Regions from separate parts of the Homo sapiens genome. Here region 2 is linked to region 1. A link means that fine-mapping ties the variant in region 1 to the expression of a gene that starts in the linked region. Tissue or cell type: whole blood. Region 1 holds a variant in brackets; the other region holds the start of a gene. All regions are shown on one strand. Distances are between the middles of the regions.

The links.
Region 2: it holds the start of SQOR, and the variant in region 1 is fine-mapped to the expression of SQOR in whole blood (TOPMed, PIP above 0.99).

Annotation. Positions count from the first base shown.
Region 1 is chr15:45,654,359-45,662,689 of GRCh38, forward strand. It overlaps SQOR (sulfide quinone oxidoreductase), which reads left to right. Exons shown (of 10, transcript NM_021199.4): 2 at 4,549-4,799; 3 at 7,597-7,767. The coding sequence starts at 4,566. Among named protein-coding and RNA genes, the nearest start is that of SQOR, 23 kb to the left of the region's middle. The variant G/C (reference allele first, on the strand shown) is at 4,552.
Region 2 is chr15:45,631,165-45,639,495 of GRCh38, forward strand. It overlaps SQOR (sulfide quinone oxidoreductase), which reads left to right and starts at 3,865. Exons shown (of 10, transcript NM_021199.4): 1 at 3,865-3,944. RefSeq lists enhancers at 3,009-4,004, 4,467-4,556, 4,587-4,636, 6,466-6,545, 6,576-6,635 and a silencer at 3,817-3,986.

The DNA of each region.
Region 1 (8,331 bases):
AAGTTGTTTCTTATAGTTGGAAAGTGAAATTTGACTGCAAAGGCCAGGACATTCTGCTTCATGACTATTAATGATGTCAATAAATCTGGTTCAGAGGACTTTTTATTTATAAATACTGAATCCAGGAATAGGCTATGGATAATTAATGAAATAAAGCAGAAGTAGCCTTCTTGGCTGAGTGAGGGAAATATTTGTGTAAATTTTCAAGAGAGGAACCATGAAGTATTAGACTGGAAGGGAGCTAGTGAAGTGGCTACATTGACTGGCGTGTATACCCATGGTTTATCGTGTTGCGCCAGGAAAATTTAGGACATGGACACACACAAGGAGTTTCGGAGTGGAGGTTTAATAGACAGGAGAAAAGAGAAAGAAAAACAACTCTCTCTATTGAGAGAGAGGGGTCTTCTGAGTGGAAAGACGTGGCCGGTGGTGGATATGTCAGATTTTATAGTCAGGTTGGTGGAGGCGGTGTCTGATTTACATAGGGCTCACAGATTGGTTTGATCAGGTATGATGTTTACATAGTGCATCAGGAAGGCTGGCCTCCCCACCCTCATCTTATTATGCAAATGAACTTTCCCCTTAGTTGGGGCCATCTTGTCTGCTCCTTACTGTACACATGGCTGACAAAGCAAAGGGAAAATGGAGCCGCCATCTTGAACATGATTGCCAGCATCTATGTCTGCAGCTCGATTTTACAGGCTGCTTTTGTTAGACAGGAAAATGATTTGGGGCTGCTTTTCATTAAAAGGAAAACCTTACCGAGGACTTCCATACCCTCACTATCTGCCTAAGTAAATTTTTCTTAACTCTTGTATCACTTGGAGGCCAAATAACCTCAGACAGGGTGGCTGGAAACCAGAAACTTAGCCAGGCCTCCTCCTAGATTGCTCCTCCTGCCCCTGCCCCATGGGGCGCTTCCTATGGGGCTTTTCCCATGGAGATAGATATAGTGTCAGGACCATGAAAAACATGATTTTTCTTTTCTGGAAAGTGAGAAGTTTTGCTGTGATTCTATCATTCTGTGGACATTTAGAAAGAAAAGCAGGATGTGATGACTGGGTACACACCATAAAATATCTTCTTCCTTCCGTATGAAACATCAATATCTTACTTGGTGATTTCTTCTTCTCTTCAATCTAAAAAAAATCTATTTGAGTAATTTTTAAAATTTAAAATGTACAGTGTATTAAAGAAAATTTGTGAAAAGTACATACAAAGAAGAGGGAAAATAATTATAATCATTAAAACCATTGCTAATATTTAGGTATCAGTATCATGAAAAATGGTTTCCCTTTTCTGGGAAGTTGTAGAAAGTATATCTTTTTTTTTTTTTTCTTTTTGAGACAGAGTCTCACTCTGTTGCCCAGGCTGGAGTGCAGTGGCGCAATCTTGGCTTACTGCAACCTTCGCCTCACGGGTTCAAGTGATTCCCCTGCCTCAGCCTCCCCAGTAGCTGGGACTACAGGTGTACACCACCATGCCCAGCTAATTTTTTTTTGTATTTTAGTAGAGACGGGATTTCACCATGTTGGCCAGGATGGTCTCGATCTCCTGACCTTGTGATCCGCCCGCCTTGGCCTCCCAAAGTGCTAGGATTACAGGCGTGAGCCACCGTGCCTGGCCTATTTTTTTTTTTTTCCCCGTTTAACATTATCACACAAGCATTGTTTTGTTGCTGTTGAGACATATTGTTCTAAAGATCATAGAGATAGTATGGTGTAGTGGTTTAAAGTAGAGGCTCTCACACCAAAATACCTGGGTACAAATCACAGTCCACCCATGGGCTATATAACTTTGAGAGTCACTTAACTGCTATCTGCCTTAGTTTTACCATCTGTTAAATGGGAATGATGGTGGTAGCCAACTCACAAGTTAAATGCTTATGTAAAGGACTTTGTAAATGTTAATTATCATCTAAAGGAAGATTTTATTAATATTAATTTTATTTATTTATTTTGAGACAGGGTCTCCCTCTCTTCCCAGGCTGGAGTACAGTGGTGAAATCACAGATCACTGTGGCCTTCACCTCCCGGGCTTGAGTGATCCTTCCACTTCAGCCTTGGTAGTAGCTGGGTGCACCACCATGCCTGGCTAATTTTTTTTTTTTTTAAATAGAGTTGGGGTTTCCCCATGTTTTCCATGCTAGTCTCAAACTCCTGGGCTCAGGTGATCCCTCTCTCTCAGCCTCCTAAAGTGCTGGGATTACAGGTGTGAGCCACCATGCCCAGCCAATATTAATGTATGTGTATAGTAGAGACTTTTATAAAATACATAAAAGCAGAAGAAATCAAAATCACTCATTATTCTAAAACCCAGAGAAAACCACTTGCCAGTGTTAAAATTTTGGCTTTGTTTTTTCTAATATATTTCCTCTTACATAGTTGAGAGAATATTGCATTTCTAATTTGTATCCTGATCATGATGTAAACATTTTTTATTTATTTTATTTTATTGTTTTTTTCAGACAGAGTCTCACTCTGTCACCCAGGTTGGAGTGCAGTGGCATGATCTCAGCTTACTGCAACCTCTGCCTCCTGGGTTCAAGCAATTCTCATGGCTCAGCCTCCCTAGTAGCTGGGATTACAGGCACACACCACCACGCCTGGCTAAAAATTTTTGTATTTTTAGTAGAGACAGGGTTTCACCATGTTGGCCAGGGTGGTCTTGAACTGCTGACCTCAGGTGATCCACCTGTCTTGGCCTCCCAAAGTGCTGGGATTACCGGTGTGAACCACCACGCCTGGTCTATATATTGTTTATGAACATAATTTTAAAAGACTTCAGAAATCATCTTGTGTTCCATATTTTAGTTAACCTTTCCCCAGTGTTTTGATATTTGCATTGCTCTCTGCCCCCATATTAAAGTGGTGACCTGAGCCTTCCCTGGCCCGTGTGGAGCCTGCATTTTTTTTTTTCTGTCCCCAGGACATAATTAGCCCTAATCCACAAACCAATTAGTAGAGGGGTGACCAGATTATGAATACATTTGTGAAAAACATCTTTGTAGTGGTTTTTCTTCTTCAGTATTAGAGGTTATTTCCTTAGATTAGATTCCTAGAAATGGAAATGCAGGGTCAAAGGGTAAGTTTCCAGAAGGGTTTTATTGACTCTAGACTCCTGGAAACACTGTATGAGCCTGTCCTACTTACCGTGGGCCTCCAAATCCCCTTCCTACAGCTCTAGGTTGCTTCTCAGATCTGAAATATTGAAGAAGTTGTCGGGGCACCAAAACTCTGGAATTAAGTTAATCTTAACAGCCCCTCAGCTCCTCTTTCCCATTCCCTATTATTTTTCCCCCTCTCCAAGGCCTTTCTTTCTTTTTGTAGCTCCTCTGCCCTGCCAGCTTTCTCTAATCCCCTTGTGCAGGCTTCCTCTTCTCCAGTCGGGAGGATGGAAATGATATAATTAAGTCATTTTATTAAGTAGTTAGTAACCTTAGCAGCTAGAAGTGTTAGTCCCCAGCTGGACACTTGCATTTTAATAAAGGGTTCTTGGAGCAGTGGTGAACCCTAAGAACTGGACTTGACGGTAGGATTTGGGGCACTGTCATACCCAGGGAGGGAGATATCATGAGCCGGAGCCACTCAAGGTTTACAAGTAGATGGAGTCCTGGATGTCAGGCCAGCTTTGTGTGTGGGGTAAAGCAAAGGTCAGTCTTTGAGAAGCCTTAATTTCCTCTCTGCCAAAGCACTAACTGCTGAGAGTAGAAACAGGTTTTCTTAAAGGTAAAGTGAGTCTCTCGGAGGAACTATTAAGGAGAAATTGTTTACTGAATTGGATGTAATAAAAGACTAGTCAGCAGCATATACAGATTCCTTCCATAAAATATAACTTTATGATACCAGGCAGGGCTCCTTTTATGGCTTTCTAAAATCGTTTGGTTGAAATTGCTAGAGGTGTGGAGGGCCTTCACTTGTGTGTCGGTAGCCAGTGATTTGATTACATTATATTTCCCTGGGCAAGCAGAGCCAGGAGGCCTCTGGATGGGGGCTGAGGCCTTGATTGCCCTGGTGGGTACTCTGAGTTGCAGAAGGTGGGTTTCTTGCTAGACGGTTTCTGTTTCAACAAGGTCTCAGGTGCCTTTTACTGCAAGGAATGTTGTAGGTCTCTAATTGTGGACTCGTATATCAGTTTTAATGGACTGAAAATCCACAGAAAGCACTGGGGAGTGTGCCTCCGTGGAGAATGGGCCAACAGCTGGATACAACCAGATGGTGCCCTAGATCTTACGGATGGACAAGGATGGGTACAGACAGGTTATTAGGAAGGACTTAAAGAGTTGGGGAACCTGATTCAAACAAAGTCCTCGATAGCCTGAACGTAGGCGGAAGGGGAGAAATGGTAAGTGTAGTCAACTGATAGCTACCAATTGGGTGCTCTCAGGAGACCTTGGGACCACAGCCAGTGGGGAAAGTGGTCTTGAGAGATGATGGGGACCAGCTGGAGCGGGCCAGATGCCGGCCTCCCTTCCTCCTGGAAAGAAAACGCTTCAGTCCCACGATGGTTTCTACCTTGGCACTCACAGCCCTGTCTCTTCCCTTCCAGCCT[G/C]ATCCTGCCTGAAGATGGTGCCACTGGTGGCTGTGGTATCAGGGCCCCGTGCCCAGCTCTTTGCCTGCCTGCTCAGGCTGGGCACTCAGCAGGTCGGCCCCCTTCAGCTGCACACCGGGGCCAGCCATGCGGCCAGGAACCATTATGAGGTGCTGGTGCTGGGTGGGGGCAGTGGCGGAATCACCATGGCTGCCCGCATGAAGAGGAAAGTGGGTGCAGAGAATGTGGCCATTGTTGAGCCCAGTGAGGTAAGCCTCCCCTTTTGAGGGCCTGGGTGTGTGTGTACGTGTGTGTGTGTGTGAGTGTGTGTGTGTGTGTGTTCTGGGGTTGGATATGACTATCAAGCAATGGGTCTTCATATGTTCAGGTTAGGGCTTCTCCTGGGCACAGAAAGCAGCCTATCCAGAAGGACTGGGAGGAAGTGGAGGGAAAGAGAGAGGGAGAACAGATCTCTTGGCTTTTAGTGTTCTCCTCTGTATTAGTTTCTTAGGGCTGCCATAACAAATTACTGCAAATTGGGTGGCTTAAAACAACAGACATCTATTCCCTCACAGTTCTGGAGGCTAGAAGCCTGAAACCAAGCTATGGGCAAGGCCATGCTCCCTCTGCAGCCTGGGTGAGAGGGATGGGCAGGTGGCTTTGTCTCATGCCTCTCTCCCAGCTTCTGGTGGTTACCCTGAAATCCTTGCCACTCTCTGGCTTGTAGCTGTGCCACTCCTTTCTCTGCCTCCATCTTCACAGAATGTTCTCTGTGTGTCTCTGTGTCCCTGTGTCTTCACATGACCCTTTTATAAAGCCACCATTCATTGGATTTATGGCACACTCTATTCAAGAATGACCTCATCTTAATTTGATTACATTTGCAAAGACCCTATTTCCAAATAAGGTTACATTCCCAGGTACTGGGGTTAGAACGTCAACATCCTTCTTTGAGAGAGATACAATTCAACCCATGACACTCTCCCAGTGCCAACCTCCTGCCCAGAGGAAAATCAATGGCCACTGCACTTGCCTATCTGTTCCTGTCTGGAGAAGGGATGATGAGTTGGGGAGCAGGAAGGCCTCTGGAAAGCTGTCAGTGGGCTTAGAAATTTAAATGCAAGGGCAGATTATAAGGGAGAAAAGGTAGCTGACACTAGGAGGGAAGACTGAGTAAGGCGCTGTCTCACAAAAAACATGTTAAGATTGTCCAAAAGCTTCAGAAAAATATTCAAGATTTTTGGTGGTTTGCCTAATGTTTCCTGTGGAACTAGGCATGTACTGGTTGGGAGCTGTATCCTTGGGAGGAAAAAGCAAAATGGATCAGGTGCCTGTTTCAGGGGGAGGACAGGACAAGGAAGACATACTCCTTTTCAAGATTTGTCCCCAGCAGGGAATGATGTTAACCAGGGCCATGATTTGAGAGGAAACTAGGGGGCAGTCTCTATCATTTTCCTTTTTAAAGTGACGTCTGTTCAATTCAGGAACCTCACTTTAAATGACAGTGGTCTGAGAGCTGTGTCAGGTGGCTACTGTTTCTGGTATATGTTGTATTTTAGCTAATGCGTGGGCGGGTCTCCCAGTCAGGCTTCTCTTTGTAAGGAGACTGGCTCTTCTGGGACCTGGGCACAATTCAGGCGGCCAGAATCAAGTTTGTCCTGCCCCGTGAGGAAGTACAGGACAGGAATTTCTGGAAGGAGCTGCCAGAGCCCCAGGCTTGGTACTTTCCCTGCTGAGTCTGATTTAGTGATAGCTGGAGCTGATGTTCATAGTCTAAAAATAAAATCTGAGCTTGTATTTTTGCTCCTCTTACTGTTCAAGATAGACTGGCCATTGATGAGCTCTCATAAATGGAGACCTCTGTCTTCCTCCCTCTTGGATCACATTATTGCTTGTAGGGAGATTGCAAAGTCATTCCTGGTGTCCTCTTCACCTCTCTGTGGGTTTTGGCAGTGCTGGCCAGCTACTTTGAGGCATTTTGGCAATATTGAGAGCTCTTGGTCCCCAGTCTACTCTAAGTGGATTGGAATTCTTAGAGGCCATTAAACAAATCTGCCCTTTGCCCCTATGTCCAGAACTTTTACAACTAACTTAGATCAAGAATGGACTGTTGCTGGGCACAGTGGCTCAGGGCTGTAATCCCAGCACTTTGAGAGGCTGAGGAAGGCAGATCACCTGAGGTCAGGAGTTCAAGACCAACCTAGGCAACATGGTGAAATGCCATCTCTACTAAAAATGCAAAAATTAGCCAGGCATGGTGGCACATGCCTGTAGTCCCAGCTACTCAGGAGGCTGAGGCAGAAGAATCGCCTGAACCTGGGAGGTGGAGGTTGCAGTGAGCCGAGATCGTGCCACTGCACTCCAGCCTGGGTGATTGGGGTGATTGGGCGAGACTCTGTCTTAAAAAAAAAAAAAAAAAAAAAAAAGGACCATCTGAAGCAAGAAAACTCCAGAAGATAGTGAAAGTTTGGGTATGCATTGCATTGTGGAGTAGGATCTGGTACTTATTGTCTTTGGTGTAAAATCTCTGAGTCTCTGAGAAAGTAGAAGAAGGGCTGTTCAGGAAACACAGCCCTCACTGGGCTTGGGAAACACAGTTGGAAGTTAATGAAGTTTAGAGGACCTCTGGAAGGGGCTGTAAACTTTCCAGACTTACCACTGTCTCCACATGCTCCTGAGGAACCATATCTAGGCTGCTGGGCTTAATTTTTAAAATATTTGTTCACATGAAGTATCCATAATATGTGTGTAGATATGCACGTGCATATAACATGTACATATTAAACACCAAATCAACTTTCAGCAATACATAATGCAGTGGTCACTAAAGATAGTTTATAGCTTTTCTGATGATCTTGGAAGAATTCTTGTGTGGAGTGACTGTCCTTCAGAGCTTACCATAATAGGAGACGCCTAATAGACGGAGCTAACTTTGTGGAGACTTTTCCATACGATGCTCTAAAGGTCAGGAGGGAGTGATTGAAAGAATCTAGCCCATACTGTTAGCTATGACCCCTTTTGATCAGTGTCAAATTGCAATAAATCTTCAAATACTTTGTTTCTCAGAGACATTTCTACCAGCCAATCTGGACACTGGTGGGTGCTGGTGCCAAACAATTGTCCTCATCTGGTCGTCCCACGGCAAGTGTGATTCCATCTGGTGTAGAATGGATCAAAGCTAGAGTGACTGAGTTGAACCCAGACAAGAACTGCATTCACACAGATGACGACGAGAAGGTAACCACTGAGGCCTTTAGATTTTTTGTTAATCTGACAGCTTGTATTAATATGCAGCCATCTTAAACTGGATAGCCTTGTGTTGAAAGAGCGGTATATATGCATGTGTGTGCATGAACGTATGTGTGTTGAATACTACACAAGATGGCAGGGTATGTGGTAAGTGGAGGATAGATGGAAGGACTGAGTGATATTGAGTTAATAAACAACTAAGATAAGTATTTGTTGAACACCCACTGTGCACCCTATTGCTTAGTATACTATCTTGCACCTGAATGTTTATCAGACCATTTGTTTATACGTTGCTACATGTTAAAATAGCAAGCACCTTCCTCCTTCTCTTTTTCTGAAGCAATCAGATTTTCTACCGGTCGCCTAGCCTCCCAGAACAATAGGATGCTGGAAAATATCCATCCAGCCACCCTGGGGGGCGCTCTACCAGAACTGTAGGGGAATCCTGTGACTCTGAGGTTCATGCCAGCGCTAAGGAGAATTGTTGCTGGAGCTTGAGGCTCACAACTGCTCAGCACCTTTTAGAAGTCTCCCACCCTCACCACTCAGGGG
Region 2 (8,331 bases), 23 kb before region 1:
CCACCATGTAAGAAGCGCCTTTCGCCTCCCTCCATGATTCTGAGGCCTCCCCAGCCACATGGTACTGTAAGTCCAATTAAACTTCTTTTTCTTCCCAGTCTTGGGTATGTCTTTATCAGCAGTGTGAAAACAAATTAATACAACCTGTTCATCTGCCTATCTGGTTCTGAGACTGCCCTGTGGCTTGGCAGGATGAAACACCATGTGATGCTTGCTCCCTGATGCATAGCAAGAACTCATTCCCAGCTCTCCCACAAGTCTCATTGCTTAGCTGTGAAGCCTTGGCTGGGTTACTGTCCCAGCTAGGGAGGGTTTGCTGGGGAGGCTAGGGTATGAGTTGTTTCTCTAGCTACTCATCCAGGAAGCATTTGCAGCAGGGAAGGGATGAGGGTGGGGCTTGCTGATCGGGCAGGAAAGACAGTACTGGAGGATCAGCCTCTTTGCTCTGATCTTCCTCCTGAGCCTTCCCTTTCTTGTGATAAGGATCCCTTTCACTGTTCCATTCTCTATTTCCACCCATTCCTGTTGCCAGCCCTTCCTGCCCACGTGTCTGCAAATCTTCCCAGAGCCCTGATTTGGATTTATTTTCCTTCTCCCGGATGTTCTTGAATTGGGGTGTGTTCCTCTTAGTGCTAGCTCCTCCTATCACTTCTTCTTCCCATCCTTTAATGATACTTCTTTCAGTTTCCCATATCCCCAAGTGCACTTTCATTCCTCGCAAACTTCACATGGGTAGGAATCAAGTCTGATTTTTTTCAACAGTGTATGCCTAGACAGCGGGCACAGGGCTTGCTGGACACAGAAGGCAAGGACTCAGAGAATATCCACCAGATGAAAGAATGACTGCATGAGTAAGTGAGTCAACTCTCAGTCCCCTTCCTTGTCTGATGGGCAAGTTACAACTTCTGTTCTCCTTTGAAGTATTCTCTTTTGCATTGGAAGGAGGGCTCTTGAGTGAGATAGTAGAATACATACACTGGAGGATCTCAGCATGTGGGATATGCTCAGGACATTTCCCTCCCCCTCCCCTCCCCTCCCTCCCTCCCTCCCTCCCTCCTTCCTTCCTTCCTTTTTTGATGGAGTCTCGCTCTGTTGCCCAGGCTGGAGTGCAGTGGCACGATCTTGGCTCACTGCAACCTCCGCCTGCTGGGTTCAAGCAATTCTCCTGCCTCAGCCTCCCGAGTAGCTGGGACTACAGGCACGTGCCACAATGCCCGGCTAATTTTTTTGTATTTTTAGTAGAGACGGGGTTTCATCATGCTGGCCAGGCTGGTCTCGAACTCCTGACCTCGTGATCTGCCTGCCACAGCCTCCCAAAGTGCTAGGATTACAGGCACGAGCCACCGCACCCAGCCCAGGACATGTTTCTTAACTCTGAATCTGGTTCCACAGCCATCAATCTCAAACCACCCAGCAGGCAGCACATCTCCTGTGACTCCTTCCCGCCTGCATCCTTCCCATTTAAACCAGGGCTTCTTGGCTTGGATGTGGAGGGTGATGGGACTGGGAAGTGGGGTGAAGCATTTTGGAAATATAGGAGGGGACTTTTTATTTGTCATAAATTTGGGAGAGAGTCTATTGGCATTTAGAGAGTGGGAACCAAGGAAGCCAACCTCCCTTGCTATGTGAACAGGGCCATATAACAATGAACTGTCCTGGCCAGTCATGGTGGCCCACTCCTCTAATCCCAGTACCTTGAGAGGCTGAGGCGGGAGGATGGCTTGAGCCCAGGAGTTCAAGACCAGCCTAGGCAATGTAGTGAGATCTCCATCTCTACAAAAAAAAAAAATAAATAAATTTAGAAAAAAATTAGTTGGGCATGGTGGCACATGCCTGTGGTCTCAGTTATTTGGGAGGCTGAGGTAGGAGGACTGTTTAAGCTCCAGAGGTCAAGGCTGCAGGAAGCTGTTATCGCACCATTGCACTCAAACCTGGGTAGCAGAGTGAGACCCTGTCTCAATTAAAAAAAAAAAAACCCAAAAAACCAAAAACCCAATTAACTGTCCAGAGTCCTGCACAATTTCTGGTGTCCTGTGCCTTGCACCAACATTCAAGTATGCAAAAAACCATTTTTTTGGTAAAGTTATTTAGGTTCTAGTTCAGATAATTATAAACATTAAGCATTTTGCATGGTTTTCATACTAAAATTTCCAGGAATGTTTCTATTGGAATAAAGGAAGAAAAGAGTATACTTTGTTTTGTTCAGAGCTTCTTTACCAGAGTTATTTGCCATTTCAAAAAATCATGTTGGCTGGGTGCGATGGCTCACGCCTGTAATCCCAGCACTTTGGGAGGCCAAGGTGGGTGGATCACTTGGTCAGGAGTTCAAGACCAGCCTGGCCAACATGGTGAAACCCTGTCTCTACTAAAAATACAAAAATTAGCCATGGGTGGTGGTGGATGCCTGTAGTCCCAGCTACTCGGGAGGCTGAGGCAGGAGAATCACTTGAATCCGGGAGGTGGACGTTGTAGTGAGCTGAGATCACACCACTGCACTCCAGCCTGGGAGACGGAGTGAGACTTCGCCTCAAAAAAAAAAAAAAAAAAAAGAAGAAGAAGAAAATCATGTCACAGAAGCAATGCTGCAGATGGAATTGAGTTACCAATAAAAGTCTACAGTCTGCGTTTGTATTGTATTGTTCATGATGATTTTGCCATAGATACAGTCAGTCTCTTTGATTAAAGATAGAAAGTATCAGTTGAAAACATTTAAAAAAATAATATTCAAGGCTGGGCATGGTGGCTCACGCCTGTAATCCCAGCACTTTGGGAGGCCCAGGAGGGCAGATCGCTTGAGGCCAGGAGTTTGAGACCAGCTTGGCCAACATGGTGAAACCTCATCTCTACTGAAACATACAAAAATTAGCCGGGCATGGTGGCACACACCTGTAGTCCCAGCTACTCAGGAGGCTGAGACACCAGAATTGGTTGAACCCATGAGGCAGATGTTGCAGTGAGCCGAGATTGCTCTACTCACTGCGCTCCAGCCTGGGCAACACAGTGAGACTCTGTTTCAAAAAACAACAACAACAACTATATATATATATATATATATATATATTCAAAATTCATAAAACCAAATAAGTGTAAAAGAAACTCAAACTTTCAAGGGTTTATTTTTGTTTGTTTTTTTGAAAGCTTCTAGCACTTGCACTTCTCAGGTTATGAGACTTTTGGGACACCCTGTATTTATTGTAAAAAGGGTTACTGAATCTGATATGGTGGAGAACCACTCACTGAGACTTTACATCAACCTGGAAAGAGCCGCCAACTGAAAATGTCCAGTCATGAATATGGGATGGGACACTGTGGAGGCCAGTGGCTGGAAGCCAGCTTACCCCTGCCTGCGCGTTTTGAAGGAAGGGCTCCAGCGCACACCAAAGCTGAACCTCGGTCACCTTCTCTGTGAAATGAGCGCGGGAATACCTGTGTTTCTGGGCAGCTGTGTGAACCCGGTGAGAAGCCCAGGGCACATAGGAGGACCCAGTGGGAACAGCCAGAGCCTCTCTGCACAGCGCCCCGCCTCCGCTTTTGCCTGCCCTGATTACAAAACGCTGTTGGCACCCAGGGGCGGAAGCGTCAGGTGGCCTCGGTGTCCTCCGCCTGTGCGCCCCAGCCTGCGGGGCCGCCCTTCAGGGCGCGCAAGGGGCGAGTCTGTCCAGCCGGCAGCACCCCAGGCCGGATGGACGCTTGTTCCTGGTTCTGTGCCCCGTGAGCGCTCAACGCCCTGGTGTGTTCACTGACCATGGTGCCTGGGCTGCGGCGCCGGGCGGGGCACGGCGGGACTTTTCGGGACCTTTCCTGGGGGGAGCCTCGCTTTCCCCGCCTCCAGCCTCCGCCCGGATGGCAGGCGGGCGGGGCCCCAGTCCAGGCCTTGAGACCCAGAAGGGAGCGAAGGTTTTTGCTGCGCCAACGCAGTGACCGAAGGCTCCGCTCACGCCCGGGTAAGAGGCATCCGCGGCCGATCTTTGGCCCTGGGCCAGCGGAGGGAGACTGGGCGGGGACAGCGACCACCACTGAGGCTGTTTGTTAGCTTAACTCGGTTTCCGCAGCTGGGACTCCGCAGACCCGGTGCGCCGCGCCCCAAACTTTGCTTCCTCAACTCCGGACACCTGCAGCTCTTGCTGCCCTTGTCTGGAACCCGGGTCTTGGGACTCTTGCTTCCTTCTCAGAGTGTCAGAGCCTCAGGGCCGCGGAGAGGCCAACCCGCGAGGGGTGCTTAAAAACCGAAGTATCCGTGGTCTTGGTGTGTGGACGTTTCTGGCGCCTTCCACCTGTTGACTGTCACTCGGCACCGTCCTGGAGCGGGAGTGGGTGCTCGGCGTCCGGGGGCCAGGGATTGACACAGTCATCCACCGACACTGCGCGTGGGACAGAGGGGGCGCTCGAGGGGTCGGCTGCAGCTGAAACCTGAAGGGGAGAGGATTTAGGGCACCTGCTGAACAGGAATTGGTGGAAAGGGAGAAGGGGTCTTCTGGTGGAATCTGGGCTCATTTCCTTTCCTCTTCATCTGTCTCTTTTATTTATCAAAATTCCAACCTGGCTTTTTGCTCAAAGACGCTGAACAGAGCCCCTGGCTTTGCCTGCGCTGCCCATTGCTATAATGCAGGGCTCTGTTCCATTTTTGTGCTGTGCACCCCTTTGGCATTTCTGGGAAGGCTAAAGACTCTCAGAACAATACTTTTTTTTGAGACAGAGTCTTGCTCTGTCGCCCAAGCTGGAGTGCAGTGGCGCGATCTCGGCTCACTGCCACCTCCACCTCCCGGGTTCAAGCGATTCTCCTGCCTCAGCCTGCCGAGTAACTGGGATTACAGGCGCAGCACACCTGGCTAATTTTAGTATTTGTAGTAGAGGCGGGTTTCACCATGTTGCCCAGCTGGTCTCGAACTCCTGGCCTCAAATGATCCGCACACTTCGGCCTTCCAAAGTGCTGGGATTACACGAGTGAGCCACCGCGCTGGACCAGAACAATGCTTTTTTAAAGGTATAAAACAAAAGGAAGAGTATTATAAAGGAAACCAATTGCAAAACACATGTCAAAACATTAAAAGAATTTATGATATGGTAATATATATGTCTTTAAAAAACGAATGCGTTATTTAATAACAAGGTTATTAAATAACAAGATCTAGCAGTGGATTAAATAGTTACCATAATTTTGAAGTAGTAAAGAACATAAACAATTATTTCAAGATATAGGTAATACTTGTAATATAAGAAAATATCTGTAATTTCTTTCTTCTTTTTTTTTTTTTTTTGAGACGGAGTCTCACTCTGTCACCAGGCTGGAGTGCAGTGGCGCGATCTCGGTTCAATGCAACCTCCGCCTGCTGGGTTCAAGTGATTCTCCTGCCTCAGCCTCCCGAGTAGATGGGACTACAGGTGTGTGCCACCACACCCAGCTAATTTTTGTATTTTTAGTAGAGACAGGATTTCACCATATTGTCCAGGATGGTCTCGATCTCTTGACCTTGTGATACGCCCACCTTGGACTCCCAAAGTTCTGGGATTACAGGCATGAGCCACTGCGCACGGCCAATATCTGTGATTTCTATTGGTGACAAAGTCTTAGTATTGCCAATACTGCTGTGGTTTGTTGGCTACATACATAATTGAAGTAAATGTTAAATTTCAGTTAGATACTAGAGAAATAAAAGATGTAAATATTAAATATCCGTAAAAATAAAGATGTAAAATACTTTTCCATCTAAGTTTTTGGGTCCAGGTTAAGATCCTCTGATAGTAGAAAGGGCACTGACCCAATGACTTGGCTTCTGGGCTTGACACTTCCATTGACATTTCCAAGGCCCATTGTAACCTTGGCTTTTTTTTTTTTTTGAGACATGGTCTTGCTGTGTCGCCTAAGCTGGAGTACAGTGAGGTGATCTCTGCTCACTGCAACCTCCTCGCAGGTTCGAGTGATTCGCCTGCCTCAGCATCCCTAGTAGCTGGGATTACACCAGCCACCCACCACCACACCTGGCTAATTTTTGTATTTTTTGGTAGAGACAGGGTTTCACCATATTGGCTAGGCTGGTCTTGAACTGCTGACCTCAAGTGATCTGCCCTTGTCTGCTTCCCAAAGCAACCACCACACCCAGCTTAACTTTGGCTTTTGAATTTCTTTTCGCCTCAGCTTCTTCATTGTACAGTGGAGATAATAACACCTTCCCAAGTATTTAAGGCACCCAGCACTGCACTTAGTGTAGAGGGCTGAAGTAGATACCATTTATCAGAACTTATTTGTATCCCTCCCAAGCTTATGGCCTTATATCCCCAAGCCTGGGGAGGTACTCATTATTTATTGAATGAATAAGTGGGTCAGAAAGGGTTGCTTGTGACTAAGTCCAAAAAACAAAATTCATTAAGGAGACAGCTGGTGGTTTGGGAAATGACTTTGTTTAAATTTGGGGCTTTTTTTCTGGCTGGAAAAATATATAAACACATTTGGAACGGGGGTGTTTGAAATGTCAGTCAGGGCCCAGGGTCTGTGTGTGCGTGTCTGTGTGGCTGGTGTTCTGCCAGTGAAAATGAAACTGAATGTTGAAAGGAAACCGGATTCCTTTGCAGAACAGTTTCTCCTCCATGTTGCCTGTGTCTAGCTTTGTTAATCCGATGTGTTGTAACACAGGAAATGTCTTATAAAGAATGGAGACGGACCCATGACAAGGCATTTCTGGGCATAGATGTACTTTTTTCTTCTCCTTTCACGTTTCCCTGCTCCACTATCTACTATATAACTCCTCTTTGACTCTGAAGACTTGGTAAATAGGAGCAGTTTGGATAGCTTATGGAAAGCTGCCCAGACCTGGCTGGAAGCCAACTAGTTGCTTCTTAATCCCAGCCTTAAAAATCTTTGTAATCCCCAGATGTAGGTGGTAATAATAATAAAGAAAAGTAGATCTAGCCAACCATCCCTGTGATTTACATTGAGAAAGTGCTAAATTGGGACAGGAGGTAGAGAACTTTGTGGAAAAAAACAAAACAGAACAAAAAAACCCTCGGAAATTTAGAACACACTGGGACTATCTATGTCTGTAACTTTGGGAAGGGCAAATACTGGTGTTATGGACTCACCAAATTCATATATTGAAACCCTAGCCCCCAGGATCTTAGAATGTGACTGTATTAGGAGATAGTGCCTTAGTTAGAAGTGGTGGTGAGCACCTGTAGCCCCAGCTACTTGGGAGGCTGAGGTGGGAGAACTGCTTGAGCTCAGAAGTTCGAGGCTAGCCTGAGCAACATAGCAAGACCTTGTCTCAATAAAAGAATAATTAGCCAGGCACGGTGGCTCACGCCTGTAATCCCAGCACTTTGGGAGGCCGAGGTAAGCAGATCGCTTGAGGCTGGGAGTTTGAGGCCAGCCTGGCCAACATAGAGGAACCCCGTCTCTACTAAAAATTCAAAATATTAGCTGGGTGGGGTAGTGTGCACCTGTAATTCCAACTACTCAGGGGGCTGAGGCATGAGACTTGCTTGAACCGGAGAGGAGGAAGTTGCATTGAGCCAAGATTATCATGCCACTGCATTCTAGCCTGCGCAACAGAGCAAGACTCTGTCTCAAAAAAAGAAAGAAAGAAAAAAAAAAAAGGAAAATTAAGTTAGGTCATTAAGGTGGAGCCCTAATCCAATATGAATAGTATCCTTATAAGAAGATGACTCGTCAGGAGCACATGTGCACAGAGAAAAGGCCACGCAAAGGCACACTGAGAAGGTGGCCATCTGCAAACCAGGGAGAGAGATCCCAGGAGAAACCAGTCTCATCAGCACTGAGGTCTTGGACTTTCAATCTCCAGAACTTTGAGAAAATAAATTTCTGTTCTCTAGACTTCATCTAGTCTATAGTGTTTTGTTATGGCAGCCCTAGAAAATTAATACAACTGGTTCTACCAAATGGACAATAGGTTTAAAAAAAATGGCTACAACTAGGCACCATCTCTTTTAAGTCATGATCCCGACATGTCCATCACTTGCTCTTAGGATCTCTTACCCAACCTATGCAGAAGAGTCTCCCATGTACTTTCCTTCTACAGACACCCTGTGTGGTCCCTAGGATCTTGCCTGAAGTTGTTAAAGCCATATTCAGCTTCATGATTTTGACTGTTAGGAAAAGAAAAACTTGGCCTCTTCAGCAAGTGACCTAGGTTAGCTGTTGTGCCATGTACATAGTAAGTACTTTGTAAATGTATGGTGGGTGATGGGTGATGATGTTATGATCATCCTTAAATACCATGGGGTGACTCCCTTCTGATCATAATGAATCTCCATGTTTTGGCCCTAGCCCAGCCCTCAGGGAACTTTCATGCCACCTAGCTGGGAACCAGCAGCTCT